Regions from separate parts of the Homo sapiens genome. Here regions 2 and 3 are each reported to be linked to region 1. The links are microRNA targets in miRTarBase. Many come from high-throughput screens and were not tested one by one. Region 1 holds a microRNA gene; each other region holds the end of a gene's coding sequence.
Evidence for each region. The annotated mature microRNA hsa-miR-4293 reads CAGCCUGACAGGAACAG and lies in region 1 at 3,629-3,645, shown strand. An mRNA with a match to its seed (bases 2 to 7 or 8) in the 3' UTR can be bound and repressed. Matches are read on the target gene's strand: a 7mer-m8 pairs with bases 2 to 8, a 7mer-A1 pairs with bases 2 to 7 and ends in A, and an 8mer does both.

Region 2: miRTarBase lists AP3B2 as a target of hsa-miR-4293. The part of its 3' UTR that is shown has no 7-base or 8-base seed match.
Region 3: the mRNA of TRIM44 is a reported target of hsa-miR-4293. The part of its 3' UTR that is shown has no 7-base or 8-base seed match.

The regions. Positions count from the first base shown.
Region 1 is chr10:14,376,419-14,386,854 of GRCh38, reverse strand. MIR4293 (microRNA 4293) reads left to right here and starts at 3,578; the gene lies at 3,578-3,655.
Region 2 is chr15:82,652,720-82,663,155 of GRCh38, forward strand. It overlaps AP3B2 (adaptor related protein complex 3 subunit beta 2), which reads right to left. Exons shown (of 27, transcript NM_001278512.2): 22 at 10,408-10,436; 23 at 9,975-10,203; 24 at 9,449-9,533; 25 at 9,106-9,203; 26 at 7,126-7,264; 27 at 6,562-6,991. The coding sequence ends at 6,841. All of the region lies in intron 3 of CPEB1-AS1 (CPEB1 antisense RNA 1), which reads left to right. Among named protein-coding and RNA genes, the nearest start is that of CPEB1-AS1, 10 kb to the left of the region's middle.
Region 3 is chr11:35,803,382-35,813,817 of GRCh38, reverse strand. TRIM44 (tripartite motif containing 44) reads right to left here. Exons shown (of 5, transcript NM_017583.6): 5 at 1-7,460. The coding sequence ends at 7,433. Among named protein-coding and RNA genes, the nearest start is that of LDLRAD3, 140 kb to the left of the region's middle.

The sequences.
Region 1 (10,436 bases):
GTACTAATAATAGCATAGAATGGTGCTGTCCAAAATGCAACTCACATGTGTAATTTTAGAATTTCTAGTAGTCACATTTAAGAAAAGTAAACAGAAATGGGCGAAATGATTAATAGGGTATTTCATTTAACCTAATATATCCAGAATATTATTTCCACATGAAATCAGTATAAAAATTTTTAACGAGAAATGTACATTTTTTATACTAAATCTTTGAAGTCTAGTGTGCGTTTTGTGCTTACAACACATCTGAATTTGGACGGGCCACCTTTCAAGTGCTAGGTAGCCACATGTGGTTAGTGGCTTCTGAATGAGACAACACAGATATAAAGCATCGTTTTCTACTTTCTCTTTGACTGCCAGGGTTTAAGTAATGTCACTGTAAGGTTAACACAGTTTCAGTATTGTTTAGCCCAAATGCCACGTTTTATGGGTAAGATAATTGAGTCAGGGAAAGAGAATGTAGCTTGCCAGAGCACAGTGAGCTGGGCAGGCTCTGAGTTCACATCTCCTGCAGCCCAGCCAGGGCTCTTTCCCAACCAGACTACGCGCAGGCTGTGGTGACTCGCAGCACTTGTCTAGACAAGGAACGTGTCAATCTTTGATGATGTTGCATTCTGTGCTCTGCCTCTGAATTGAGATAGGATCAGTCTCAAATTCTTGAGATAAATTCATTAATTCACCGGCTCATTGATTCATTTGCCAGCCTACTACCTGTTAGACACTAGGAATGCCAATACACCCTAGAAAGACTCAGTCTGTGGGGGACAGACCAGCATTCCGCATTCATTGCAGCATCACCAAATACTGTGATGAAAGGTTTAACCAGAATGTGCACAGGTTTCAAATAGCTCTGAGGCCATCAGTGAAGGGACTGTGACTAAAGGCATATTATATGAAATGGCAGGAGTGCAGTGGAGAGTCTAACAGAATGGACAAGCACCACTGGCGACCAGGCTGAAATTCAGATCTTGATTCCTTCATGCAATAAACGTTTATTGAGCTCGTGTTGGGCATGTTAGGGAAATGCAGTGACAAACAAGATATACAGTTTGTGTATCAAAGAAGGTTGCCATCTAGAGGGGAAAACGTTCCAAAATCAATGTATTAAAATGAATAAACAAGTTACAAACTATGAAGCTAGGATAAGAAACAACATAAAGGGGCAGGGAATGATGGACAGGGGCAAGATATTTGACATTGATGGTCAGAGAAGACCCCTCTTTGGGGTTCGTATTACAGAAAGACTAGCTGTTTTAAGCATAATAGAAACACCCCAAAATGTGTCATGGCTCAAAGACAAGTTTTTTTCTTTCCACCCACATACAATCCAAAATGAACATGGCTTGATCAGCAGGTGCCTCTCTTCCATGCAGTGATTCAGGGACCCTGGCCCCAGCCATCTGTGGCTCCTCAGTTTTTAACATTTCCCTTCCATAATCCCCTTGCCCTTCTGCATCAGGGTTTTCTCCAGAATGGGTAGAAAGCCTGCAGTGATGCTGGTGATTTTCTTTCTCACCATCACTGGACACACTTAACTGCAAGGGAGGCTGGGAAGTCAGGTGTAGCCCAGGAAGAACAGGTATGCCCAGTGAGACACGTATGCCCAGGAGGAAGAGGAAACAGCTTGGTGTGAGCGTCTAGGTAGTCTCTGCCACACATACAAAACATCAAAAGGATTTATCCTTGTAAAGAATAGAGAGAAAAATGTTCCCCACAGAGGAAGTGATAGTGCAAAGGCTCTGAGGTTGAGAACGAGTTTGGCCTTTTTGAGGAACTGAAATAAAAACAGGATATCTGAAGCACAGAAGCAAGAGATCAAGAAATGTCAGAGAGTGGTGGACAAATGAGAAGGGGCCATATAAGAGAGGGGTTTGGGATTTGAAAACTTCTTATTGTTGAAAAATATACATAATACCAAAGTTACCATCTTAATTATGTTTAAGTGGCACTAAGTATGTTAACATTATAGTGCAACCATCACCACCGGCTATCTCCATAACTTTCTCATCATCTCAAACTGCAACTCTGTACCCATTAAAACACTAACTCCCCATTCCTCTCTCCCTGCAGCCCCTGGTAACCTCTATTCTACTTTCTGTTTCTCTGAATTTGGCTACTCTGCGAACCTCAAAAGAGGAATCATACAATTTTTGTCCTTTTAGGTCTGGCTTATTTCACTTAGCGTAATGTCTTCAAGATTCATCCCTGTTGTAGCATGTGTTAGAATTTTCTTTTCTTTTTTAGGCTGAATAATACTCCATTGTGTGGATATATGACATTTGGGGTTGATTCATCCAGTGATAGACATTTTAGGTGTTTCCATCTCTTGGCTATTGTGAATAATGCTGCAATGAACATGGGTGTACAAATACCTGTTTGAGTCATTGCTTTCCATTTAAGACTATATCCAGGAATGGAACTGCTGGATCCTATGGTAATTGTATGTTTCAGTTTTTGAGGAACTGCCATACAGTTTTCCACAGTGATTGCACCATTTTACATTTCCACTAGCTGTTCACAAGTCTTCCAGCTTCTTCACATCTTTGCCAACACTCATAAGTTTCTGAATGTGTGGGTTTCATAATAGCATCCCAGTGGATGTGAAGTCTGTGGTTTTGATTTGCATTTCTCTAATGGTTAGAGATATTGAGCCTCTCTCCACGTGCTTAATGGGTATTTGTGTGTCTTCTTGGGAGAAATGTCTATTCAAGTCTCTTGCTCATAATTAAAATTTTTTTTTTTTTTTACTGTCATTGAGGGGTTTGAGATTTTATTCTAAGCTCAATGGAAAGGCATTGTCAATCAATCCAGATGTCAGTCAAGCAGAGGAGTGACATGAGCCAATTTTCTTTATATTTCTTTCTTTCTTTCTTTCTTTTTTTTTTTGAGACAGAGTCTCACTCTGTTGCCCAGGCTGGAGTACAGTGGCACAGTCTTGGCTCACTGCAACTTCTGCCTCCTGGGTTCAAGCAATTCTCCTGCCTCAGCCTCCCCAGTGGCTGGGATTACAGACATGCACTACCGTGCCCAGCTAATTTTTGTTTTTTAGTAGAGACGGGGTTTCACCATGTTGGCCAGGCTGGTCTCGAACTCCTGGCCTCATGTGATCCACCCACCACAGCCTCCCAAAATGCTCTCATTACAGGCATGAGACACTGAGCCTGGCCCAAATTTTCATTTTAAGAAGAAGTGATTCCCCTTCTGTGTGAATTTCTCCAGCAATACCAGCTCCTGGGTCCCGCCAACAGAGTGGGCCGATGGTGAGGATACCGTCAACCCTAAAAGTCCTTGTTCACAACGGGCAACAATCAAGTGTAATTAGAGCAGAAGGCCTGAATTCTATTTTTCCTCCCACAAGCTTCAGCAGTGACTCATGCTTCTGCATTGCTACTGTGGTGCTCCATATTTCCCATGCTCCGGGGCTCCAGTGGGGTGGGGGCATGTGGTTGGGATTAAAGGCAGCTCTGAGCAGGTAAAGGGTCACTCCATCTCCAGGGCCCACTTAGTCCTCAAAGGGCCTGACAAGGGCAGAGCAATTAGTGAAAGTCGTGATATTGGTTGCCGGAGGTATGGCAGAGACACCTGTTCCTTGGGAAGCTGGTGACATTGCTAATTCATTTCACACCAGCCTGACAGGAACAGCCTGACTGAAGCAAGCGGTCAGTGATGAAGAAGAAATAGGATTTCCCCTCTCCCGAGAGAGCCAGTTCCCTCACCCTGATGTCCTTATTTCAGTTTCACACAGCTTGATAAGTAAAGCTAGAACTCAGTATTAGGATTAACATGGCCATTTTATTATTTATTTATTTATTTTTGGAGACAGGGTCTTGCTCTGTTGCCTAGACTAGAGTGCTGTGATAGGATCATGGCTCACTGCAGCCTCCATCTCCTGGTCTCAAGTGATCCTCCCACCTCAGCCTCCCAAGTAGCTGGGACTACAGACACACGCCACCATGCCTGGCTAACTTTTTAATTGTTTTGTAGAGATAGACTCTCCCTATGTTGCCCAGGCTGGTCTCAAACTCCTGGGCTCAAGCAATCCTCTTGCCTCCTCCTCCCAAAGTACTGGGATTACAGGCATGAGCTACTGCACTCAGCCTTTACATGGCATTTAAAAAATTTTGTCAGTTTTTTTTGGTACTTTTTCTTCCTCCCAGACATTCTTGTTTGTCCACTGAAGCAGAAGTTCTCAAACTTCACTGCATCAGAACACCCAAAGGACCCGTTAAAACACAGAGCACTGGGCTGAGCCCTGCAAAGCTTCTATTCAGTGGATCTGGGATGGGTTGAAGAATTCAAATGTCCAGCAAGTTTGCAGATGCTGCTGCTGCTGCTGCTCTGGCCCACTCTTTGAGAAACACTGTGTGAAAACAATCAGTGTAACTCTGTGGGGTCATGAAATAAGCTAATTTAGGGTCCGTAACATAGCAGTGATGGCAGCCACTGTTTCTACAGCCTGGACATAGACTGCCTACCTCTCTCAGTAGGGTTTCCTTCTGTACTGCAGTGTGCAAGGGCGTGTGGGGGTGTATGTGTCAGAACACAGACACGTGAGCTCATAACCTCCAAGAATTCTTCAAACACCACTGCTTTTCTAAGCAGAAGCAGCAGGTGGGAAGTCCCTGGCGCTGTTACAGCTGGGGGGAAACCACTTATTGTTTTTCTATTGTTTCTTTCATGTGATCAAAAGGAAAAGTGAGATTGTTTCTCTTACTCAGGCGTGCATGGGAATTAACACTCCTTAAAACCTGTGACTTCATTCAGTTCATTAAATACATGTTAATTGAACATCTGCTTTATGCCACTCTGTTTCACGTGCTGGAGACAGAGCAGTGAACAAAACAGAGTAAGTTCCTGATCAAGTGGAACCTTTTTTTTCTGGTGGCAGAGAAAAGAAAGAAACATACAGAAAAGTAAATGTGTAAATGTGTTGTATGTCCATGGCCAATAGATGCTATGGGGGGAATTACTCTGTGTGTGTATGTGTGTGTGTGTGTGTGTGTGCGTGCATGTGTGCATGCATAGTGGTCAGGGAATTATCTCCAACAAGGTGACACTTGAGCATAGGCTTGAAGCAAGTGAGGAAAGAAGCCATATGGAGATCTGGAGGAAGAGTGCTCCAAGCAGAGGGAACAGCAAGTGCAAAAGCCCTGAGGTGAGAGCATTCTTAGCATTTCCAGAATAGCCAAGAGGCAGGTATGGCTGGTGTAGGGTCATGAGGAAGAGGAGATGGGAGAGATGAGTTCAGACAGGTGATCTGGGCCAGATTGTGTAGGACCTCGTAAGCTATTGTAAGGATTTAGTGGGAGTCACTGGAGGATACTAAGCCTAAGAGGGTGTTTACATATTGGAAGGATCTTCCTGCTGCTGAGTGGAGGGTGAATATAAGGCAGTAATGGTGGAATCAGGAAGCCTAGTTAGGATGCAGTTTCAATAACCAAGGTGAAACTTGGTTTGAGGATGTAGCAGTGAAGGTGGTGACAAGGGGTAGAATTTTGGAGATAAGTTGAAGGAAGAGCCAACAGGGTTTACCATATTTTGGATGGGAGATAGGAGATAAGAGATCAAGGCTGATGCCAGGTTATTTGATCTGAGGACCTGGAAGAATGGAGTTGCCATTTACCCAAGACAGGGAAACTGGGAGAAGCAGTAGGCCTGTGGTCTCGCTGCATGCCCAGGAGAAAAAGGAAATACAGGGCGGAAAGGAAAGCAATATTGTAGGATACCAAAGAAAATCACTCAGTCCTACAACATCAGCAGAGCTGATGTTTGTCTCTTAATGTTTTCACAATTCTTTCCATTCCTTATTCATCTCCACTCATATTTTACAAATAGTAATAATTAACAATGTGGAGTGGTTAATATATGACAGGCACAATGAAAGGCATTTAACACACATTATCTCATCGAATCCTGGCAACAGCCCAGGATAAAGATGACAGAAGTGTAGACAGGTTAGGTAACACCCCACTAGTAAGTCAGGGAGCTGGAATTTTACCTGGGACTTTCTCACTCTGAAACTCCTGGTTGTTTCCTACTTTCCTACTGTGCTACCTGCCTTTGCATTATTAATATTTTTCAGATCTCCACATTGCCCAGAGATCTCTAACTCTTACAATTTAGGGGATCATGTCTCACCTTCCACAGTATCTCACAAGTTCAGGGATGACAGACATTCCTTGGCCCATCTGAAATAATAGAGACCAGAAATAAACATGCACTTTCCAGAATGAAGTTTATTATTATTATTAAGATGGAATCTTGCTCTGTCGCTCAGGCTGAGTGCAGCAGTGCGATCTTGGCTCACTGAAACCTCCGCCTCCCAGGTTCAAGTGATTCTCATGCATCAGCCTCCAGCGTAGCTGGGATTACTGGTGTGCACGACCACGCCCAGCTAATTTATTTTATTTTTTTAGTAGAGATGGGGTTTCACCATGTTGGCCAGGCTGGTCTCGAACTCCTGATCTCAGGTGATCCACCCACCTCGGCCTCCCAAAGTGCTGGGATTACAGGTATGAGCCACTGCACCCGGCCAAAGTTTATTAATACCATGTTGCAAAAAGGGCAAGTGCCCCCAGAAAGCCATAGAGGGCCTTATCAAACAAAGCAAGCAGGAGGTTATTCTAGGATTTGGGGAAACGATGGGATTTAGCTAAAATTCAAATGAAGCAGTGTTTTGATGAGCGCAAAGCAGGGCTGTGTGTAATTAACATCAGGCTGAGCTGGGGAGCTGACTCAGGGCTCCGTTTCCTTGGAAACTACAGGGTTAAGAGAAATGTAGAATATTGTGCTTCCAAACTCCTTATCTGAAGCACTGCACCTGCCTTGGAAATCTAGGCTGCTTCTCTGTGTCAAAGAGACCCCAGATATTTCAGGTAGGAATGGGATCTTCCATTCTTACTGATAGGATTTTGAAGAGGAAACTGTCAGGAGGTCTGTAATTTTTGAGAATACGGTTTCTCAATGCCATGTCTTCTTGTTCAACCACAAAGGCAGTTTGGTACAGGTTCACAGAATGCAGCTGCTCCTGGCCCTTGCTCCTGGGGCAGCTGTCTTCCTTCCCTGCCAAGGTTGCCAGGCAGTGACCCCTGTGTCTCCTCATCCCCATAAGAAGCACTAATGTTGGGCTGCTGCATTGTACCACTTGCTGGAGTATTTGCAGTCACGGCATGGAATTCGAGTACAGTGCTAACTATGGCATAAGGCTGGGATAGTAAGACGACTGTCTTTCAAAAGCATTCCCTGCATCATTCCCAATTGTTCATCGGCCATGGCTTACCTAGTGCAATTTTCTCAAGCTTCTCTCTCCTCCCTGTGACCTTCTCCCAGCTCTCCTCCTCTCCCCCATTTTGCAGCTTCTTAATTGTTTCTCTCCACAAAAGAATCTCAAATGTGCCCTACTTTTGTATGCAGAGCAGTTCTACTCCTTTCCTTTCTCTTTCTAAATTGGGACCTGGTGGCTGGTGTCCCTCTCACCTTCTGCGGGTAAAGTGGTGGCCAGGGACCTGGCTAGCCTTGGGTTCAAGGGCTTGTGGGAAGGGAGGAGATGGAGGCCGACGAGATGATAGAAGAGGCTCTTTGTGCTATGCTCAGGGCAAAGCCCACCTCCTCTGATAGCTGTGATGCCATTGGGATAGTTTTTGCAGGTGCAGAGCAGGCGGGGGACCTGTTTGTATTTAGATTATGGATGCTTTTCTTAGAGTTAAGATCACAAGGCATTGAAAAGATTAACTTGTGTTAGAATCGATGGGCCTAGAATGAATACACAGTGTCTTTTATTGTGAAGACACAGGAGGAAGGAAATGAAGAGGCTACTGGAGCAACAGTGTCACCTGTCACTGAACAGGGACCCAGAACCCCTCATGCTTGGACACATGCTTTAAGTAATGCTGTAACTATACCAGACCAATCTGGCTCGGCTTTTATGTAACAAAGTTGTCAGTTGTTTTTCAGTTGCCATGGGCTGCCCCCAGGTTGAAGGTCACATACCCTGTGCGTGTGCAGATGGACCAAGCATCCAACCACAGGCGGAACCTAAGTGTTTTGACAGATTAGCAGGACTGAATTAAGAAGCGGACACCACATGACAGGATCCAAGATCCAATCAGATTGAGCCCTTGTGTCACTCCATGGCAAGATCCAATCAGATCATGCCTTCCCAGCATCATGTCATTGCAAGACCCAATCAGATCTTGCCTTATTACCCTATGCTTATAAAACCCCACAGCCCCAAGCTCAAGGAGACAGATTTGAGCATTTCCTTTGGTCTCCTTTCTAGTTAACTTCCAATAAAGCTTTTCTTTTCTCAAAAGCTGGTGCCGTGGTACTAGCTTTTATGCACATCAGGAAATGAGCCCTTCGATTGCTTGGTAAGAGTGCAAGAAGTCAAACCTGGCTGTGGGTCTACCTCATCTACACAAGGGAACAAATAATGAGCTCATGTCACAGAGCTCTTATTTATTGAACAAAATTTTTATTGATTGCCTACTTGTGCCGGACACTGTGCAAGGCTATGGGCAGAAAATGAATAAAATATTAATGTTACTGGAAAGGGGTCCTAATCCAGACCCCAGGAGAGGGTTCCAGGATCTGGTGCAAGAAAGAATTTGGAATGAGTCCATAAAGTAAAGTGAAAACAAGTTAATGAAGAAAGTAAAGAATTAGAAATGGCTATTCCACAGGCAGAGCAGCAGCTTGGGCTGCTGGACTAAGGATACTTATAGTTATTTCTTGATGTTATGCTAAACAGGGGGTGGATTATTCATGCGTTTTCCAGAAATCATGGGCAATTTCTAGAGCTGAGGTTTCCTCCCCTTTTTAGACTATATAGGGGAACTTCCTCACTGTTGCCGTGGCATCTGTAAACTGTCACGGAGTTGGTGGGAGTGTCTTTTACTATGCTAATGCATTATAATTAGCATATAATAAGCAGTGAGGATGACCAGGTCACTCTTGTTGCCATCTTGGTTTTGGTGGGATTGGTTAACTTCTTTACTGCAAGGTTTTTAGGACCTGTGTCTTGTGCCGACCTCCTATCTCATTCTGTGACTTAGAATGCCTAATGCCTGGGAATGCAGACCAGCAGGTCTCAGCCTTACCTTACCCAGCCCCTATTCAAGATAAAGTTGCTCTGGTTAAAAGGCCTCTGACATTGACATGCCCTAAAAGAGCATAGCCTAGTGGGAGAGACAGACAAGAAAATAAACAATTTAAATAAAATGCACAATTAAAGCAAAGTAAAAAAAAAAAAAAAGAAACTTTAATAGCATTTTGTCCAGGACAACTGTACATCAGAGAAGGAATGTAACTTATTCCGGACTAAAAATTCAGTGCAGCCAGGAGAAGAAGTTTGGATTGAGACATTACAGATAAACAGGAAGCGAGGGGGAAGAGGTTCAGAATATTCCAGTGGTCCTGGTAGCAGGCATGGCTGGGGTGGAGAATGCACATGAGAAAATGGCTGGAAACGAGCTGGAGAAACAAGCAGGGGCAGCCGGTGAAAGAGCATGTTTGCAGACTGAGGAGCCTGCAATTGTGGGGAGTCATCAAACTTCTAGAGCTGCTTTTTTTGAAGACAGGTGTATTAGGATTCTCTAGAGGGACAGGACTAATAGTATAAATGCATATATGAAAGGGAGTTTATTAAGGAGTATTGACTCACGTGATCACAAGGTGAAGTCCCACAATAGACCATCTGCAAGCTGAGGAGCAAGGAAGCCAGTCCGAGTCCCAAAACCTCAAAAGTAGGGAAGCCGACAGTGCAGCCTTCAGTCTGTGGCCGAAGGCCCGAGAGCCCCTGGCAAACCACTGGTGTAAGCCCAAGAGTCCAAAAGCTGAAGAACTTGGAGTCCAATGTTTGAGGGCAGGAAGCATCCAGCACAGGAGAAAGATGAAGACTGGAAGACTCAGCCAGTCTAGTGCTTCCACGTTCCTCTGTCCGCTTTTATCCTAGCTGTGCTGGCAGCTGATTCGATGGTGCCCTCCCGGATTGAAGGTGGATCTGCCTCTCCCAGTCCGCTGACTCAAATGTTAATCTCCTTTGGCAACACCCTCTCAGACACACCCAGGAACAATACTTTGTATCCTTCAATCCAATCAAGATGACACTCAAATTAACCATCACAATAGGGATGTCTCTGGTTCCCCCACCCCCACCCTTTTGTTTTTTTTTTGAGACGGAGTTTCGCTCTTGTTGCCCAGGCTGGAGTGCAATGGCACGATCTCGGCTTACCACAACCTCTGCCTCCCGGGTTCAAGCGATTCTCCTCTCTCAGCCTCCTGAGTAGCAGGGATTACAGGGATGTGCCACCACACCCGGCTAATTTTGTATTTTTAGTAGAGATGGGGCTTCTCCATGTTGGTCAGACTGGTCTCGAACTCCCGACCTCATGTGATCCACCCGCCTCGGCCTCCCAAAGTGCTGGGATTACAAG
Region 2 (10,436 bases), not on the chromosome of region 1:
ACCATAATTTATTTCTGCATTCTCCTATTGATTGGAATTTGAATTCTTTCCACTTCGGGGACTATTATGAATAAAGCTGCTAGAAATATTATTGATGTGAAGTATAGCAACTCTGGTGAGCAATTTGGATTCTCTAGTTAACTTGAAAAAGTGTATACTCTATGACCCAGCAATTCCATTCCTAGGAAAATATGTTAGAGAAACTTTCATACGTGTTAAGAAACATGAGTAAAAATGTCTGTAGCTGTTTTGTTAATAGTTACAAAAACAAAACAAAATAAAATAATCTTAAATGCCCACCAACAGGAGAGTGGATCAATAAATTATGGTATAGTCATACAATGGAATTCTATATATAAGTAAAAGTAAATGAAATACAGCAGATCACATCAACATGACTTACAAACAATATTGAGTGAAAAAGCAGGATGTAGGAGAAAACATACTCTCAGATGCCATTTATATAAAATTTGAAAACGTGTAGTACGCACCACCATCACAAAGTATGGTACTATATATTGTTTAGGAACACGTCTATCTATAGTAAAAGTACAAAAAAAAGGATGTTATTGATAAACAGAAAATTCAGAATGATTTGCTTCAGGTGGGAAAGGAAGCAGTCATGAAATGAGGGGTGTGGGGGACATTGGATTGATGAGCACTGAACTGATGAGTGCTTCAGTTCTCAAGTTGGATGATTAGTATACAGGTGGTTATGATAGTCTCTAAACTTGAAATACATAATAATATTTTAAAGAGACAGAGATGGGGATAATTAAGGGCCGTGATGTGCTGGTAAATGTTTGACAATTGGCTGGGGGAGGGAAGTGATTTGTAGCATTTGTCTCTTTCCATGGCATAAAAACTCCCACCACGGCTGATTTCAAATTGTCAGTGTGACATCATCTGGCTCACAAAATTCCTGAATGTGTAATAACAGTCAGCCCTCATGAGCCAGGAGAAGCCAACTCAGGCACACCACTCAGACACTGAATGTGGGAGCAGAGTGCTCTGAAGGCCAGACTCAGGGATCCAGGCTCCCTGAGGGCTTTCCCAACAACCTAGGAGATGGGTGGAAGGCTGGATTGTATTATTTATTTATTGCTATTAAGTTACCCCTAAAGCTAAGCAGCTTAAAACAACAAATATTTATTATCTTGCACAATTTCTGGGAGTCAGGAATCAGAGAATGGCTTAGCTGGCTGGTTCTGGCTCAGAATCTCTCATGAGTTTGTAGTCATGATGTCAGCCAGAACTGCAGTCACTTGAAGCTCTGCCTTGGGCTGGAAGATCAGCTTCCAAGCTCACTCAAGTGGGTGCCGGCAAAAGCCTCAGTTCCTTGTCACATGGACCTCTCCATATTGCTGCTCAAGACATGGTAGCTGGCTTGAGAGGGAGGAAGAGAACAACCAAGATGGAGGTTCAAAGAATTTTATAACCTAATCTGAGAAATGACATACCATCATTTGTATCCTATTATTCACATAACACCAACATTGATAATATGTGGGAGGGAATGACACAAGGATACAGATATCAGGTAGCAAAGATCATTGGGGAGTATCTTGGAGGTTGAAGGTGAGTGCTGGTTGTCCTGAGATGCTTGTAATGGGTTAGTGGATGCCCAGAGACATGGGAATCAGAGAGGCCATCCCCTTTGTTTTGCAGCTGGGGAAATTGAGACATTCAGAGATTTACTCGAGAGTATGCAGCTTTTCTTGGTGAGGGTCAGGAGTCCAGGGTCTTGGTCTTGCCTTGGTACCCATGAGAAACACCAACCCCACCTCTCCCTCCCTGACTTCCCTCTGAAGGTACAGATGCTGAGGTCTTAGCACATCCAAGGTCAAAGTCACCTTGCCCAAGCTCTCAAGAATTCCTCTTCCTCCATAGGTGTTTCCTTACATTCTTCACAGCCAAAACAAGACAACCCTCCTATTTCCACATACCCTGCCCCTCCCACAGAGGCTGTTGTTAACACATCCCTAATAGCCCCAAAGAGAAGCATCTGCCACTGTGTTGGCATTGCTGGACACAAATCCATGTTGGCCTTCTGAAATCCCACTGCCACTTGGAGCCTGGTGTCAAACTGTTTCAGGACTCTGTAATCTCTCAGCAAAATGAAACACTGCCCCAAACTGGAAGCAGACATGAGGAAGTTGTGCTGCCACGCTTTTTCTTGCTGGATGCTGTTTACATGGGTTATTCAGTCTATGAAAACGCATCAAGTTGAGCACTTGTGATCTGTACAATTTTATGTAGGAATACTATACTTAAATATTCATAAATTTATAAATTATATGTTTACAGATTCATAAATTTAAATACTGAAACTTTAGATTTTTAAAAAAATATATTTCCAAAGCCAGGGGCGTAATGTATTTGGGGCCTGGATAGAGAGAAGCATTCTTTCTGTTCTCCAGATGCCATAGGGAAGCGAAGCCTCAGTGACACCATAGCATCTTCTGCAGCAAGGGGGCAGTTGGTAATGGGAAAATAATGGGGGTTCCCAAAGGTCAGGATCAAAAAGTTCAGCCCTAAGTGCTTTCTTCTAGACAGGTCAGTGGGATTGGGGATGCAGGGAGAGAGACTGGGGTCAAACCAGAGCCATCAAGTCAAAGACCCAAAAAGGTATATACTGCTTCTTTTCCTTGAGGATACGCCACTTTTAATCCTTATTCTCCATATCCCAACCTGGGCTCCACCCTCCCAGGGACCAATTCACCATCCTTCTCTTGACTCTGGGAGCCAAAAGACCAGGTGGTGACAGAAGGAAGACTCAGGCTGAGGTCCTCGGGTGGGTCAGAATTTTCCAGTTTTCCCTTTCCTTTCCAAGCCAGGACAGGGAAAGTCCTCCCACTTTGAGTTCCACCCTCAACACCCATCCTTTTGATGTGGAAGATACACTATTGGGAGGTGACTGTCAAGATGCCAAGCAGAATAGGCTGAACTAGTGCAGGGGTTTGCCTTAGTCACCAGACAGATGGGAGTTCAAGCATGGGCACAGCTAATGTCGCAACTCCAGGGTCCTTGTAGTGGCTTCCTTGGTATCTCTAAATGGATCTATTCCCCCGGGTCACCAGCCACTGCAGCTAGCCAGGTGATGCAGCCTGGCTGGAAACGAGCTGTCTCTCTTGCCCATTTGCCTGGGCATTGTTTTGAAGCCATCCTGGACTAGACTCCAGTTCCCAGCCCCTCTCTGAGCTCATTGTCCTCTGACCCATCAAGGCCTGTGGTCAGGCTCAGACCTAGATCCCCACTGATGCACTACCCCATCCTTGTCACTGCCTCTGTGCCAGTCCCTGTGCTTCTATCCACTTCCAGGCCACTTTCGGCCCTTCCTTTGCACCAGCAGAGTCCTAAGAGTGCTTCCCAGTCCGTCCTGTGGTCCTGGGCCCCACCTGAATCCCACAGCCCTGGGCTAGTTCCCTGGTTGTCCCATCAAAACTATTCATGACTGGCCAGCCATGGTGGTTCATGCCTATAATCCTAGCACTTGGGAGGCCGAGGCAGGTGTTTTGCCTGAGCTCAGGAGTTTCAGACAAGCCTGGCCAACATGGCAAAACCCCATCTCTACTAAAAATACAAAAAATTAGGCTGAGTGCAGTGTCTCACGCCTATAATCCCAGCACTTTGGGAGGCCAAGGCAGGCAGATCACGAGTCAGGAGTTCGAGACCAGCCTGACCAACATGGCGAAACCCCGTCTCTACTAAAAATATAAAAATTAGCCAAACGTGGTGGCACACGCCTGTAATCCCTAATCCCAGCTACTCAGGAGGCTGAGGCACGAGAATTGCTTGAACCCAGGAGGCGGAGGTTGCAGTGAGCGGAGATTGTGCCACCGCACTCCAACCTGGGCAACAGAGCAAGACTCTGTCTCCCAAAAAAAAAGAAAAAAAAAAAAAGGCTGTTCATGGGAAGCATTTTCCCTGCCAACTGAGATCCAGACACTCTGTGACCAGGCCCCTAATAACCTGGGGACAAAGTGTCACCACAGTGGCAAAGACTTGGGCCAGTGATAAAATACAGAATACGATATGGGTTGGGGAAAATGCCCCCGGGGGATGTGGGGGCCCCCAGCCCCTGCAGGTCTGACCTGCTTCCACCTGTGTGTGCTGGGCAGGCCCCCATCTTATCCCTGCACACTCGCTCAGGTATGCTCATGTGGTAGGGTTGTGGGAGGTATGGCCTTGGAAGAGATGGGCTGGGCTGGAACGAGAGCTGGGGCAACCACTCCCCCTTCCTCTGTGACTGAGATTCTCTCACTCCAGACCGTTCACTCAGCACAGAACAGGCCCCATGCTCCTCCTGGGTGGGAAATTGCTGCCCCACCAATCTCCCAGCCCAGCCTTCACCAGCAGCACACCACTCCCCGCTGGGCTCCTTCTGCAGTCATACTCTCCCCTGCCCACACCTTGCTCTCCTGCTTCCTGCCTCTCTCTTTGGTCAAACACCAGAACCATTTCCTTATGAAGAGTTGCTACTGCTAATGCCAAAGCCTGGGACACATTCCAGAGACACCAACACAGAGCCGTGAAGGTTCCAACTCTCTGGACTCTCAGGGTTGGAAATCCCAGTGCCCTTTCCAAGAGGTTCTGGGAACCTGGACTGTACTTGAGGAATGTTGTGGGACTTGCCTTTTGCACTTCTGGTTCCTACAGAATCCCATTTTTTTAAAAGGGGATTTTTTTTTAGAGGTAGGGTCTTGCTAGGTTGTCCAGGATAGAGTGCTATTCACAGGTGTAATAATAGTGCAATACAGCCCTGAACTCCTGGCCTCAAGCAGTTCTCCAGTCTCAGCCTTCTGAGTAGCTGGGACTACAGACACATGCCCAGCTCTACTCTGGGGCTTTTGATATAGAATAAAGGTGGGTAAGGGATTCTCTGATGGTCCTTGTTCAAATTTCTTAGAAAATCACCCTCACCCTCTCTCAGTGCTGTGGGTAGTGCTGATTCAGAGGCAAAAGTAAGACTGAATCTTACTTTTGACTGGAGGACCATCTCAGAATCTGCAGTGACAAAAACAGTGATCCCAGGGAGACTTTGGGGCCCCAGGCTCTCAGGGAAGCAGCAGCTCCAGCAGCTCTCTGGTGTCACAGTGCCCAGCAAGTCCCTGGAGCCAGAGGCAGGGCTGTCCCCTGGCACTGCCTTTGTTCTCCTTCTGTGAGAGGACAGCCACACCTGCTTCACCCCATCTTACCCATGAACAGACATGCTCAGGGATGCCTAAGTGGCAGGGCTGAGGGACAGTATGGCCAAGGGCCTAAAGTCTTGGTCACAGAGGATCAGAGGCTGAGGTTCAACATCTCAAACTAACTGGAGTGTGTTCCTTGTAACCCAGTCAATCAAGATGTTGTGAGGAAAGTGTTCCAAAATCAAAACCAAGTTTGAGTAACACTGCAGGCTGAGAGGTGGTCACAGTGTACATTAGCATAGTAAAAGTTCTGAGAAGACCTGTAGGAAATGAACTTATTTCACTTAAATCCAAGATTCCTAAACTTATTTGATCATAGACTTTGCAGGGGGCGGGAGGGTACAGAACACATCCTAATGGAACACCTTTTATACGTTTTAGAACCACTGCTCACTCAGCCTCTTTCTTCACCAGAAAAGGTGTCAGGGAGAGCCCTGACCCCCACTGCACCCACCAGGTTTGTTCCAGGTGTGAGCAGATGCTGGTGTCTTGTTACAAATACAGAATCTGCTGCTCTGCCTATGGAGTCGCCATTCTGTTGTTTCTTAATAAATTTGCTTTCACATTATTATTATTATTGTTATTATTATCTTGAGACAGAGTCTCACCCTGTCGTCCAGGCTAGAGTGTAATGGCACGATCTCAGCTCACTGCAACCTCTGCCTCCTGGGTTCAAGCGATTCTCCTGCCTCAGCCTCCCAAGTAGCTGGGATTACAGGTGCGCACCACCATGCCCAGCTAATTTTTTGTATCTTTAGTACAGATGGGATTTCGCCATGTTGGCCATGTTGGTCTTGACCTCGTGATTGGCCCACCTCAGCCTCCCAAAGTGCTGGGATTACAGGTGTGAGCCACCACGCCCGGCTGCTTTCACTTAAAAAAAAAATGCAGAATTTCAGACCCCACCCTAGACCTACTAATAGAATCTGCATGTGATGGGATCCCCAGGTGACTTGCCACAAAGTGGTTTGAGAAGTACAGTTATGCATCTTCTATTCTTCCACTAAGATGACCAGTGGGTCAGTACCCCAGCCAGGTGGGGCCTCCAGGCCCCCTAACTGGAGTAGTTGACATATGTTGAACTGAGCACCTGTGTTTGGGGAAGTCCCCATGTTATGAGTCCTTCCTTCCCAAGGGACCGTAAGAAGAACTAAGGGGGTCTGCCAGCCATTGAAGAGGACTTGTTTTTGCAGAGGCTATAAAAAGGACCAAGGTGCTCTTCCAGCTCTGCCTTGCCACCCCAGCCCAGATGTCTCTTCCACAGAGATGCCTGCAGACTCCTAGGCATCCTGACCCAGAGATGGTTACCTTGGGGATTCAACAAGAGTTGTTCCTGACAAACCCCTAGAAGGAAAGGTGAGCCAGCAGCTAGAGAGAAGACATTTTATTGAGCCTGCTACATAAATAGCTACAGAAATCTGGGAGGACTGAAGGGAGTGGCTGCCATCTCTCTCTGCACAGATCACTAAGGAATCCATGGGGAGGGCATTAGGGGAGGGCTTGGTCCTCCAGAGGGAGAGAGGACACCCTGAATGCTATCTGGCATGAGGAGGATGATGAGAGAGAGAGAGAAAGATGAGAGAGACTGACAGCCTAGGTGTCATGGGGAGGTATAGATGGGAGCCAAACAGGTCACAGCATTTGGAAGTCACTGGGTCAGAGCCTGTATCACATCCTTTACCAGCATGGTGCCAATCACCATTTTCTCGCTGTTGACAGTCAGCTGGGCAGCTCCAGCTGGCCGGGCATCCAGGGTCAGCAGAACGAGGCTTCCACCAGTCAGTGTCCTCCCTGCAAACCTGAGGTGGGAATAGAAGGGGTGAGGAAGAGCTGCTAAGGGTGACTGTGTTTGGAAGGGGATCAGCAGCTGGGGCTCCTCCTTCAAACCAGGGCCCCCATGCTCATCATTTCCCCTCTACTGGTGGCCTAGTACCTGTACTCATCAGATGTCCCACAAGGAACACGACCCAGGTTGGCAGTGGCAGTCACTTTCTGCACCACAATGTGGTCACTCCGACAGGTGTCTGGCAGCATGAGTTTCTCTGTGATCTCATTCATGCCCATCAGCTTTCCTGGGGGTAGAGGTCGTGATGAGGGCAGAGGCCATGGTGGGTACAGAGGCCAGCACCTGGGTCTGCTTACTGAGCAACAAGTTCTCCCAGGCTGGGAAGGTATCATGCAAAGGGCAGGTCAGAATTTAAATCATCAGTCTTGGGGAGAAGGTACTTCCCTCTCAGACTGGGCCCTCCCTCAGGAAGCCTTTGTCAGCCTCTCTACCCCTCCCACCCAGGCCTTTATCCATGTTGTTACCAAAGACTGATTTGGCGCTTCCTCCATCAGACATCTGGGCTACCAGCCCCTTGAGAGTGGCCAGTCAGTTCTTAAGAGGTTCGCCCATCCTGAACCTCACACCCTTTGATCTTTCCTGGGGGGCCCTCCAACCCACATTCAACTCCCACTCAGCTCCTGGAAGCTAAGCCCTCACAAAAAGATCACAGGTGGCTGCTGTGATCTCTCAGCCAGAATCCAGTAGTCACATGCAGCATTCACAGGTACATTTTTAATTGTACCTCTGCAGTAGCAGCTCCAGACCTAGCCAGGGCTCCTGAAGCCTCCAAACCTTCACAGCACCCCCAGAACTCCTCATTCTGCAAGGCTGACTTCTCTCCACTCACATGATCCAGGCCCCCCATGGGAGCTCCTCCGTCTGCTCTCCTGCACACCAGCAGTCTTCTCTTCAGCCTCTTTCCTCCCTCCACTGCTTCCCCTATTCTTCACCTCCTTTTAGAAACTGACATCCCTCTCCTGTTTCTTCTATCCCCTTCATTCATGACTAATAACATTTTCTTGTTTTTGTTCCTTCAATCTGTTCATGTTCAAGTGTCCCCGTCTCCAAAAAATCCTTTCCAGAAGTGAGATCCTTCATCGTGCCAATGCCCTGTCTCCCTCCTCATTCATGGCTAAAGTCCTCCAAAGAGGACTGCATGTACTTGAGCCGTGGTCTCCCTCAACCCACTGCAGTTGGCCTCTGTCCCTCCTTTAGCAATGACCCTCTCTCCCTCAGGTTGGCAGTAGCCTTTTATATGCTGACTCTGAAGGTCTTAGGTAACTGTGGTTTGCAGACACCTTCTGCCTTGTTGTCTCTCCTGGTTCTCCTCCCACCTCTCCCTGTGCTCCTTCTCTTATCCCTCCCCTCCTCTTTCTTCTGCAGAATTCAGGTTTTCCCCCAAGGTTCTGTCCTTGGCCTTCCTATTTTCTCCCACCTCCCAGAGTGATCTCATTCATATTCACAGCTTCCATTACCACCTCTATGTTCATGACTCCAGCTTCAAAGTGTTTCCTGGGCATAGACCCATATTTTCAGTTGCATACTAAATAGCTCCTCCTGAATTTCCCAAATGCATTTCAAAATCAGCTTATCCAAAACTAACCATGATCTTCCCTCCTCCCTTGCCCAAGCCACTCTTCTTTCTTCTAGGCCAGAGGTTTTGCAAATTACAGCCTCCAGACCAAATCCAGCCCACCACCTATATGGCCCACAATGTTTTTAATATTTTTTAAGTGTTGGGGGAGCAATCAAAAGATTAATATTTCATGACACATGAAAATTACATGAAATTTAAACTTCAGTATCTATAAATATAAATGGAAATTTCTTGGAACACAGCCATACTCGTTCATTTACATACTGTCTGTGGATGTTTCTATGTTTCAACAGCCACAGTCGTGTTGTAACTGCAACAGAGACCACATGATTCTCAAAGCCTAAAACATTTATCTTTGGCCCGTTACAGAAAGTTTGCTGACCCCTGGTCTAGATGAAGGACACCACCATTCTCCCTACCATCCAAGCTGGACATTCTGGAGTCAGCTTCTATACTTCCCTCTCTGCCCACTCCCAGGGAGCACTCACCCTGTTCCTTCTTAAACTCATTTTCACTCATGAACACAGGGGCCATCAGCTCCCCAACAGGTGGCTGAATGGAGACGTAGAACTGTCGGGTCTGGGTGCTGGGAGGGGTGGGAGGAAACGGAGAAGAATTAAGGCTGTCATCTCTCCCCTCACTTCCCACCCTGTGTAGAGGCACAGCTTGGAGGCAGTGAAAGAGTGAGGTCAGGAATGAGGGCCTGAGATGGCTTCCAGACCCACCCAATCATGATGTATCCCCACTAAGCACCACCTCCATTTCCAGTTCATTGTTACCCTGTCCCTTTCCAGCCCATCCTCTCACCCCCACCTCGAGTTGGGCACATACCACAGCTGGAAGTTGGCTGCCTGGGTTGAGTCACAGAAATTAATGCCCATTACAGCAGTGGCAGATTCTCCAGGTGCCAGGGACTCTGAAGTGGTATAAGGCAGTGAAGGGGAGAGGGAGGGCCACCATCACCTGATAGGTCTAGAACCCAGCCTAGCCCTACTCTCCTCTCCACTGTCACAGCTGACCAGCCCTCTACAGAATCTTGGCTTTCTTGGCTGCTGGAGACTGTTCCCGGTTTCCTCCTGAACTCTAAGCACCCTTTCCCCCACTCACCCTCACCACATTTAAGTTAGTCCTGAAACAACCAAGGCCCAAATCTGCTGCTGCAAGCACCTCCCGCCCTGATGTGAACTTGCTTATTTCATCATCTGTCTTGTCCACCAGAGTGTTGATCATGTTAGATGCTATCTCTGTGCCCCTATAGCTTGGCCCCTGGCCTGGCACAAGGAGGGTATCAGCAACCACAGAAAGACTGACTCTGCCCAGGAGCCTCCTCCTCCACCCCATCCAAAGCCCTTCGCACCAATTTCGGGAAATTCTTGGATGCTGATGCCAGCAGGCAGTTTGGGAGTGCCCACATGCAGGCCCTTGATGGGGGTATCAGAGCTGTTGGAGAAGTGGATGTGCACGGACACCATGTGGGGATCCCCGGAGAAAGGTTGGCGGCTGAAGGTGTAGTCCACAGCCAGCCCCTCGCCAGCTACCCGGTGCAGCAGCTCCTGCCGCCCAACACCCGATACTGGACTCAGAAGCTAGAGTGGAGGGGTAGGGAAGGACAGAACTGAGCAAGATGGAGAGAGCCTGTCCCAGCATTGTCCCCTAGGGCCATCCAGCAGCTGGGACTCAAAGCTATCACATCCTCCATCACACCCACCCCCCACACACATCCACACCATAGGATGCAGCACAGGGATGTGTCCCTGCCCCAGCCCGGTCCCCTCCTCCATCCCACTCACCGACGGTACCAGGGTGGAGTCTGTGAGTG
Region 3 (10,436 bases), not on the chromosome of region 1:
GTCAAAGGTTTATTCCTTTTAATTCCTAAAAGTTTTTTTTTTTAACCATTGGGATGTAAATATTTCTAAAATGTTTGATATACATATTTTTGTCTTCTAAGCATAGTTTTTTTATGTATGGTGCACAGGGTCATCATTTTAAATAGAATATTGTCCCATGATACAGTGAGGCTCTTAAAGATTGAGATGTGTATAGACTGTTTTTGACACTAAATAACCCATATATCAGGGCTTTGGAGCTTTGCAGTCTACTCAAAATTTCCATTTTCTCTATTGCTGTCCTCCTTTTTCCTTCTTGTTTCCTCTAAAAGTCTGTTTCTTTCCTTTACAGTTAGAAATATGTGTGAAGGAAGAGCAAATAGGTTCTGAGGAGGTGCCTGATGACTAGATGTATGGCCTTTGTCTTATGCGTTTGCTTCATGGTATTTATTTCAATTGGTTGGAAGCCTTGTTTGCTTACTTCTTAATTCTCAGTCACTTTTGATGGGTTCAGCAGAGGTTCTAGATTTTTCTAGTTCTGTCTCAGTTACTCATTGTCAAACCACTGGTTTAGATTTTGTGTTCAGGAAATAGGGATAGGTAAAGCTATCAGGTGGCTAAGCCCTAGGTAAATGAGTTGCCATGAATCCTAAAATATTGTGAAGGTTGTGGGCCATTTTTATAAGGCAAATGGTATGCTGTGGCCGTGACAGCTGAACTCAGTAAGTGAACTTTAAAACAGATAAGCTCCTTTTGCTGTTGTCCCTTTCCAAGAATATGAAGCTGGCCTGACGTCAAGCTGTTGGAGAGCCTTCAACATGTTTAATTAAATCACAGACTCAGTGTCAGAGCTGGCTGACTTTCAGGATTCTAACGCTATAGCAAAAGAAGACATGGTTTTGCCTCTCGTTGATTTTCTTATTTATGGCCTTGGAATAAAGAAGATAAAGCAAGTCTAACAGTTCTCCCTTCCAAAAGTACAGTTTCAGGCCAGAAGATTTGACTGCTACCCTTAGACTTTCTTTCCCTCACTGTACATTGCATTTTACAGGCTATACAAAGCAAGACCTTCTTTGCAAAAGGCAAACTCCTTTGCCCCAAGGCCATACTGTACATGTGTGGGGGTAGTTGTAGGGGGATCAGTGTTGTTATTCACCAATACAAGATGGAATCAGTGCAGCTAGGAGAGAAGAGATTAAGGAAAGAGGCTGTGAAGTCTGCTAGACCTGGGTTTAAATTCTGGCTTCCCGCTTATTAGGGTGTAACCGTGGTCACAGTACTTAATTCTCTAAATTTGATTCCTGAGCAACAAAGTGGGGAATGATAGTATTGGTGCTGTTACTATTATGATAATGTGAAAAACAACAGGAGAGTACCTGGCCCAGAGAAAGAGCTAAGTGACAGCTCTTATTAACATAAATGAATGATTTAAACCTGGAGATTACAATAGTTAACAAGCACAGACACTTAGTGCAGTCTGTTACTGACTTCAAGCAGTCTTTTGCTTTTGTTTCTATTTCTGTGACATCTTCTCTTATTACGACTTTCTGTTGGGTGTCTCTAACTCTGGTGCCTTGTGAAGGCCAGGAGATATTCCAGACAAGCTGAAATTCTACCTTTTTATGAGTATAAAGGAAATGGGGCCATGTTGGACCAAACAAAGAGTAATAAAATAAAATATAGAGTTGTAGCTTTCAGAGGGAAAGATAAAACAAGAAAGGGCTGGGGCAATGGATGTGGTGTTGAGATACTGGCACCAGGAAGCAGGGAAGAAAACCTCCAAACACATTGTGGTTTGTTAAAACACTGAAGACTCCTAAGTGCTACAGTGGCAGGCAGTGCCACCCCACCAGGCAGCAGTGTCCTCCGCAACTGGGGAAGAGGAAGTAGGGCCTAATGATTGCTCTCGGAGACAGAGAGTCTGCTGTCCTGGGCTTTACCAGCCTGGCTTGTTGGGTGACCTTGAGTGACTTATCTCCCTCTCTTGGACAATTTTCTCAAGGTTCTCACACAGTCCCTAGCTAACTAAAAGGGTCTGATGAAGATAAATGTGTTAAAAGAAAATTTAGAGGAGAGTCCACAAACTGTCCCTCCAGATACACCTGCTGGTGGGTTTTAGGATTTTTAAACATTAAATTTTAATGCATTTAGGCAGGGCTTGGTATTTTCTAATTCACACAGTATCTACCATCTTGAGTCTTCACATTTGGCTCCTGAAGGCCTCTGAGTATATGACTTCTGATTTCAATGCAACCTCTGGTCCTTCAAACCAGCTTGGAATTGCTTCATTTACAACTCATTCTATGTTTTCATCAATTACATGCAAATATGTATTTCTAAAGTTTCACAAAACAAAGATTTTGTTGGCCTAACTGTAATTTGCTCTAAAAGACATTTTTTTTTCTAGAAAATATGGCAAAAATTACAATTTTACCTTCCTTCTAGTTCATCCAAATTCTAAAACTTTAATGTTATTTGAAAACATAATTTGGCACCAAGTATTCTTTAGGTTATAATCTAAGTTGCTCATAAAATGTAATCTAGGCCTGGATCATTTTACTTTGAGGAGAAAACTTATCACTAAATAATAATGATCTTAAGTCTGTTCTTTTGCCACTTCCCAGAGCTCTCTCCTAAGGCACTGTGGAAAAGTCAGGAGTAAATTAGACTCCCACATCTAGTAACCAAAACACCATCATCTCCAGCATTACCACAGTCAAGTATGCAGCTCGTCATAAATATTTACACCTTGCAGGGTCCTTTGTGCACAACTCTGAGAGACAAATGGCATTTCCAGTAATAGTTTATTGATTTCCAAATGCACAGGGGCACCAAGTCCGAACATCCTGGGATAGCAGTAAATCTCTCTTACAAAATAATTTACAGTATGAAAATGATATACTGAAACATTAACCCAAACGTGTAATTCCCTTGAAAGATTCAGTGTTCCCTTGTTTAATGTAAAGGGTGGAAGGGGAAGATTCCTAAGGAGGGAATGTGACTGTGCACAGGAAAATAGGCAGAGGACAATGGATTCATTGGTTCTCCCCATTCATGCAGTGTGGCCTGTCACTGTAGAAAGACTGGTCAGGTTTAACCCTCATTAAGTATTAATCTGCTGTCCCCTCAAAGTCATATCAAGCCCAGTATGGGCTCCGTGGCTTTTTTTGCACCAATGTATCCATAAGTGTCTCCACTTATTTTCATTTTTCTGCTCTGGCCCTCGTTCTGCTGTTTCTGGTATGTTCTCAGTTCCAAATTATACTATCTTATCTTACCAGGCAGGCCTCCAGAATCAAGAACTGCCTGAGTCTTATGGTTTCTGGAATGGGACAGGGTAGGGGGCTTCATAAGCACTGCTGGATAAAGGCAATAATAATGAGACTGAAGTCTCCCATATGGGCCTTCTTTTTCTCTTAGAGCTGGGCTGGACTCAATCCATAATGAGATTTTTTTAAACATAAAAATCTGATGTGATCAGCACACAGTAAACGTGCAGTTAATTTTCTTATTGAGAAGCATGTATTGCACAGCCATTATATGAATGTGGAATTTCAGGAATGGCAAGAGAATATTTTCTACTTGGGGAGAGAGGACTTCCTAGACCCTGCCACAACTACAAGGTCATGAATTCTGCATTTGTGCCCTTAGGTCTAACTGGAGTAGTTAGACTCTCAGGTCACCAAAATGGCTGGGCATCCAAGTTTCCCATCTTATTAGACATCCTGGAGGAGGGCTGGAGTGCAATTTCCTTCAGGGCTGTCACTTTGACTCAGTGCCTTAGGAGCTAATGACCTTTGCTAGGGAATTGCTCTTCCTGTAAGCAAGTACCTAAGCCCCAACTATATGGTGACACTTGTAATTAGGGCTGACAGAAATCTTTGAAGTAGTACGCAAGATAATGAAGGGGCTGCTTTGAGTTTTCCTTAGCTCTCAAATATTGTGTGTGTGTGTGCGGACATGTATGTATGTATATACATATACACACATATCACACTTGTCCTTTATATATAGGTACACACTCCCCCGACACACACACTAAAACCAGGAATCAGTAAGAGAGTCCAGATTCACTGGACTTTGAATTGCCACATCCTCACAGAGTACACTGGCGGCTAAGTTTACTAAAATATGAAGATTTCCTTTTCTACAGGAGTGAAGCTGCAGACATTTTCAAATAAAGTTGAGTAGAGAGCAGAACACCCTTCACTTTTACTACTGCTGCAAAGTTCTATATCTTTGAAGGCCAAGAAACACCTTATTTATGGAAGATGGCATGAAAAAGGAAATGTTCTCCTAACTCCTGGGGGTGGGCTCAAGTCAGCAATGTGTACTTAAAGCATCTGCTAAAGGGGAGAAATAAGGCTACCTCAATGCCATTTCTGAGCCCTAACTATAACTGTGAAATGTCATTTTGAAGAAGATTCATAAATTGGGATGGTCAGCACACAGTGGGAAAACCTGAAGTCTTTTTATCCTTCTGTTTTTAGGTGGACCATGGTGTGTGGTACAAAGTGCCTGTCCACAGAATTAGGGGGAGCTGCGTTCAAGATTTGGCTTGAGTATTTCCTAGCTGTATAACTTGAAGCAAATGACTCTTCCACTCCCCATCTGTTTTATTATCTAAGAGACAGCTCAGGGCCTGGCTCATAGTTGTTCCTTAATACAAGTTATTTCCCTTCTTGGGCTGTCAGAGCCGAGACTCCAAGCACTTCTTGGGACTGTCCTGGATTTAATGATATCAAATCAAAGTCCCTCTCAGCATCCAGAAATTCAACATTTGAAAGATAGCCAGAAATTGCTATGAGTATCCGACTGATTCTGGAAACATTCATTACCTGCCTCCCTTGGTGACTTCTCTTTAGGGGTTTCAGCAAACCCTGCCACCTGCACCCAGGCAAGACCCAATTCTGAGCTCTCTAACTTTTACTGACCTGGCAGGAGGGAAGCCTCATCATGCTGGGGCTTAAGGCCAAGCAGCATGCTCCAGCTCTAGGGGAAGGTAGTGCCACTGCAGGAAGCATCCTAGTTCTTACATTGATAAATGCTGCCGGCAGGAACTTAGAAGCCTGGGCAAAAGCTGCTGCACTGTGTTTAATGCTTCCCTGGTTAAAGTTTTATCAGGTACTGAAGACAGCAGGAGTCTATAAAGCAAATCTGAAACGCTTTCTAAGTAAAAGCAAAAGTGCTTTCCTTGAGGATCACAGAGATATGATAAGTTACTGAGACAGGTTGGCAAATATTTTTATATTTCCATTTATATCCACTGCATAAATGCTTGAATTTCCCAAATACTGATTCAAAGTAGTAACATATGATCAGATATGGAGAACCAATGATCTGTCTATTGCTAATATAAGGCTACTATTTGGAGATCAAACAATGATTATTGGGGAAAGACAATACAAGCTTCCAAATCCTAAAATCTTTTTAATCTTCTGATACTTAAATTTTTTCGAGAGTGGCCACTGGTCCTTCTTTTAGGGTACTTTTGTTGGATATGATTGGTGGTTGTAATTAATGGTATGCCAAATTCTCCAGTCTTTGCAGAGATAGGTAAAGCACCAAAATTGTCCTAGCCATTTCTTGGCCATCAGTTTGAGAGAAAAATGCTTTTTTTTTTTTTTTTTTAACACCTCAAACTCCCCTCAGCCCCAATATCCTGGCATCTTTAGTGAGTCAGGACAATCCTAACCTAGAAGCATATATGCCTGGGAGCTTCCTGGCCTCAAAGGAATAAATCTTTTCACAGCATTCACAGGACTGAAAAATAATATAAATAGGATTCCTACAGTAAACAAGTATTGTTTCTGTTTCAAAACCATCCTGCAAGCATAACAATCAGCTGGTCCTAAAGCCTGTAATACGTACACAGGTCACAGGCAGACAGGCAGGCAGGAAAAGGGATTTCCCCCAGTGCAGGCTCCTTTGGTTCTGCCTCAGAGGCACTAGAAGTCTAGGCCCTGGGTTAACAGCAACCCAGAGTCTGCTTGGATATGGTTCTAGTTGTATGCTTCGTAAGTGAACACCAAAATACCATAAAGGTAGAGGAGAGTGAACACATAACCCACTTGCAAATAAGAATTACCTTGCAAGATTCCTATTTTTTTATCTTAACAGTCTATGCGTATGAACATTTTATTCTATAATATAACTTTTATATAAAAATAGGTCATCTTATGACTCTAAACCATTTGGTAAGTAAAACTGATGCTTCAAGAAGATGCAGGTTTTTAAGTTTGCAGTTTTACATTCCCCTAGTACATCCCTGCTTACTCGGGAGCACAAAGCTTGGTTGTAAGAAATTGTGATTTGGAAGTAGAGAAAAGCAAGGAAGTCCAACCTCAGGAGTGTCTCTGTTACTAAGAGGAGAGTGAGATCCAGGGTGTGGGAGATGATCTGAAGGTCTATGGGTGGGGAGTGCCACAGGAAGAAGGGTTCTGGTCGGAGTTAAAGGAGGATATATCTATATGCTGGGAGATGAGCTGAATTCAGAACACATGGAATGGGAACAATTCTCCCCATACTGCGTTTAAGCCAAATTAGGCTAAAATGGGGGTGGGACTAGCAAAAACCTACAATGGAAATTCCCATTTGGTAATATACATTCCAGCCCTTCACGTTGTGACAAGCCCATAAAACCTGCAGAATTCACCCAAATAATTCTGGTTCTATTAGATCCTTTACTGACTATTTTGGAAATTCAAGCAATTTGAATTCAGAAATACTGATTTCAACTTTTAATCAGACTTCTTTGGTCCTTTTTTTTCCCCCTAAGGTCATTTCCGTTCCACCTCTTCAATCATTTTTTTCATTTCCACAGCACTGAATTATGAATATCAAGTCCTGGATAACTTCATATACTAAAAATATCTCTTCCTCATCTTTAACTCTTTCTCCAACACCTTTTTCCAGTCATCCATCTTAATTCATGGCACCACAATTTTCACAAATGTAGAACTGGACTTTTAGGGACTGTCCACAAGAGTTAATTTGGCCCTACCTTGCTCTCATTTATTTCATGCTTCAATATGAACAAAATTGGGTTTTTGTTAATAGGCAGGGAGAAAACTCTGACTTCCCTTCAAGATTATTCCAGATCCTTCCTAACAAAGCGATACTGTTTGGTAATACAATATTATGGGGGCTGGCTTTCCTGAGTAAGTTCAAAGCAGCCATTGAGGGATTACCTGAAGGACCTTTCTTAATTGCTCCTGGTGGATCAAAGGGGCTCTTTTCCTTGACCTACCACAACCAGGGGATGAGAAGCACACAGTAAGCATAAAACTGGTCATCCCTTGGAGAGATATGTGCCTGCTGTGGATCTGGGGACACATCTGGTGGAAGTACGTTTGTTGCTGAGCAGCTTTCACAGAAATCAGAAGCCGTTACATACACGCTGTCACATACACACAAGGGGAGGGGATGATTTTCCACTGGGGGTAGCAAGCCTTCATGTGTCCTCTTCTTCACTGGCACCACTACAAAGGAAAAGGAGAACCAGGTGAGTTAAGATATCACAAGAAGGGAGGCAGCCTAGTCTACTGGTTGATAGCACAGACTTTATGTCAGACATACCTGGAATTAAGTCTTAACTACCATGATTGAGCAATATGGCCAAAGGCAAGTTACTTCGTTTCTCTAAATTCTGATTTCTTTATCTGGCCATAGGGGGAATGATGATAAAACTTACTTTCTTGAGTTACTAGAGGATTAAATAAGAGAATACATATAAAATGCACAGTACCTGGTATACAGTACGTGAGCAGCTATTTAAAGGAGCAGGTGAGAGTCATAATTCTTTTAAACTTAACTGACAAAATAAATTGCTGGTAAAAATCAGGTGTATGATTTCCTCTAAGCCTTAAGCCATCTACTGTTAGGAGAGAAAAAACAAGGAGAAGCTACTACCATCTGCACTCTCAATGGCACTCTGCACTTGGAAAAAAAATCCAAGATTTCAACTCATGCCATAGGGACATATGCCACCTCGTCAGAGAAGGTACTCTACTAAGTAGGACTCCCTGGTGATTCTCTATCTTATGTCTGTCATAGGCCTTATCACATTACATAATTTATTTGTTTACGATTTACTCTTCTCTCTACCCATGACTACAGCATATAAGAATAGCAACACTTTATTAACTATGTATATCTAGCACTAGCACTGGGCTGGGCACATAGAGGTGCTCAATAAATAATTGGTTTTTAAAAGGAAGTGAAATACAAACAACAGGAAGAAAGGGAGGGAGGGATGGACACAGTTGAAGGGACTGGTCAGTCATTACTGCCCTGGCCAGGTTATTCCAGATGTTAGTGATGTTTCAGTGGTCAAATAGTTGTCAAGTCCCTCAGGCATGGCTAGTACCTCAGCTGCTCAGAGTTACAGCCCCTCTGGCTTGGACCTGGGAGAGAACACTGTTGGTACAGGGACTGGGGCAAGGAGAAGGTAGAGCCTGAAAATGCAGGAATGAGCACACTCAGAAAAGCAAACGTAGCAAACTTGCCTAGTTTCTCCCCATCCTCTTCTATAGGTCACTGCCCTTAAAATAGTAACAAGAGCCAGCTTGAGCAAGTGCTTACTGTGGACCGGGGCACTGAATTACGTGTTACTCACCCATTCTTCCTATTATGTAGGGGCTATTATTATCCCCCGTTTTCCAGATGAAAAAAGTGAAGCTCTAAGAGATGTAAAATCCTAGGGTCACATAGTAAGGTCTGTGTCCTTAAAACTCAAGGTTTAGTTTCAGTTGGATAAAGTCTGAAGTGGTCAAGCTGGTAGAAAAGGAAAAGGCCTGTAGAACATCAGCTCCCAGCTATTACCTAGAAATTTTTCATCTCACAAGGGATTATCTATGTCTATATAAAACCTGTGCTCTTTTGCATCCATCTGGGAAAGACTTTAAGGGAAAATATCCTAGGCAGCAAATTTCTAGAACTTCCACTAAGGGCAGAAACATTTCAAGAAACAGGTCCTGCAAGTTAAGTGTATGCTAGGAGCCAAAAGAACCAACTCAATAATCTTCACCATTCCAAACTCTGCCCTGTTTCCACTCCCCTTTCCTGCTGGTTATACAATCATGGGATGAAGGGTGCATGCTGGAAATGCTGGACAGTGGGCTGTCATTAAGAAGCAGTATTTAATGGCATCTGTCCCAAAGGGAACACAGGGTCTTTTATGAAAGCTTCTCACCAGAATCAAGGCAGAGCTGGAACTGGCGTCATATTCTCCCCCTTTGGTATTACATCCAAAGCAAGCTCTCATTGTTCTCTTGTCAGTTTTATTTCAAATATGAGGGCAGCATGGTGACTCTGCCCTAAGCTGCAGTTCACTTTTTAGCATTCTTAACGTGAGACATAGTTTAAACGTTCATGGACCTAATGAAATTGTATACAGAATTTTATCTGTGTGTTCCTTTGTCTGAGAGAAGACATACTTTTCATCATATTTTCAAAGAAGTCAACAACTCTCTTGCCAAATTGGGAATAACCAAATTATAAATAAACTCTTTTTGGTTGCCAGGTTCTTTACTATAATATTTGGAGAGTGGCTTGGGGAAAAGGTCTGAAGTCTGAACTGATAAAATCTTTTCTCGTTAACCTAAAAGAGACGTGTTCTTGGGCCTGAAATTTATCTCACAGTTTAAAACATGAGATCTTAGGATACTGGCATATCATTTATTGATTACTTCATTTGCTAAATATTTGTTGACTGTCAACCATGTGTAAGTCATGATGCTAGAAACAAAAATGAATAAGATGAACACGGGAGTTGCCCTCTAGGACTTTAAAGCCTAGTAGGTGAGATACAGGCTCAGGGGAGGGAGGAAGAACCTTTTTTTTTTTTTTTTCTTCCCAGAACAGTACCTTCAAAGAAAGCATCTTATTTTTATAATAACCCACTTCTCACAATAATGAAAAAGAAAAGGGATCATAACTGAATCTATAACACAGAGCTTTGCTCAGCTTGTATGTCGTCTCTCCTGGAGGGTTCAACAATATAATTAGTGTGAGGCATCATCTCCTCTCCTGAATGTTCTTGCTTCACTTTGTATATAAACTTTGTATATAAGCTCATCTATGTTCATGAGGTTATCTCATTTTATTTATTTATATTTGAGATGGAGTCTTGCTCTATCACCCAGGCTGGAGTGCATCAGTGCGATCTTCGCTCACTGTAATCTCCGCCTCCCGGGTTCAAGCGATTCTCCTGCCTCAGCCTCCTGAGTAGCTGGGATTACAGGTGCATGCCACCATGCCCAGCTAATTTTTGTATTTTTAGTAGAGCTGGAGTTTCACCACGTTGGCCTTGAACTCCTGACCTTGTGATTCCGCCTGCCCCAGTCTCCCAAAGTGCTGGATTACAGGCATGAGCCACCATGCCTGACTGTTCATGAGATTTTTATCTTAGTCTATAAAAGTCTTCACTTTCTGCAAGGGAAGTAATACAGCCTTCT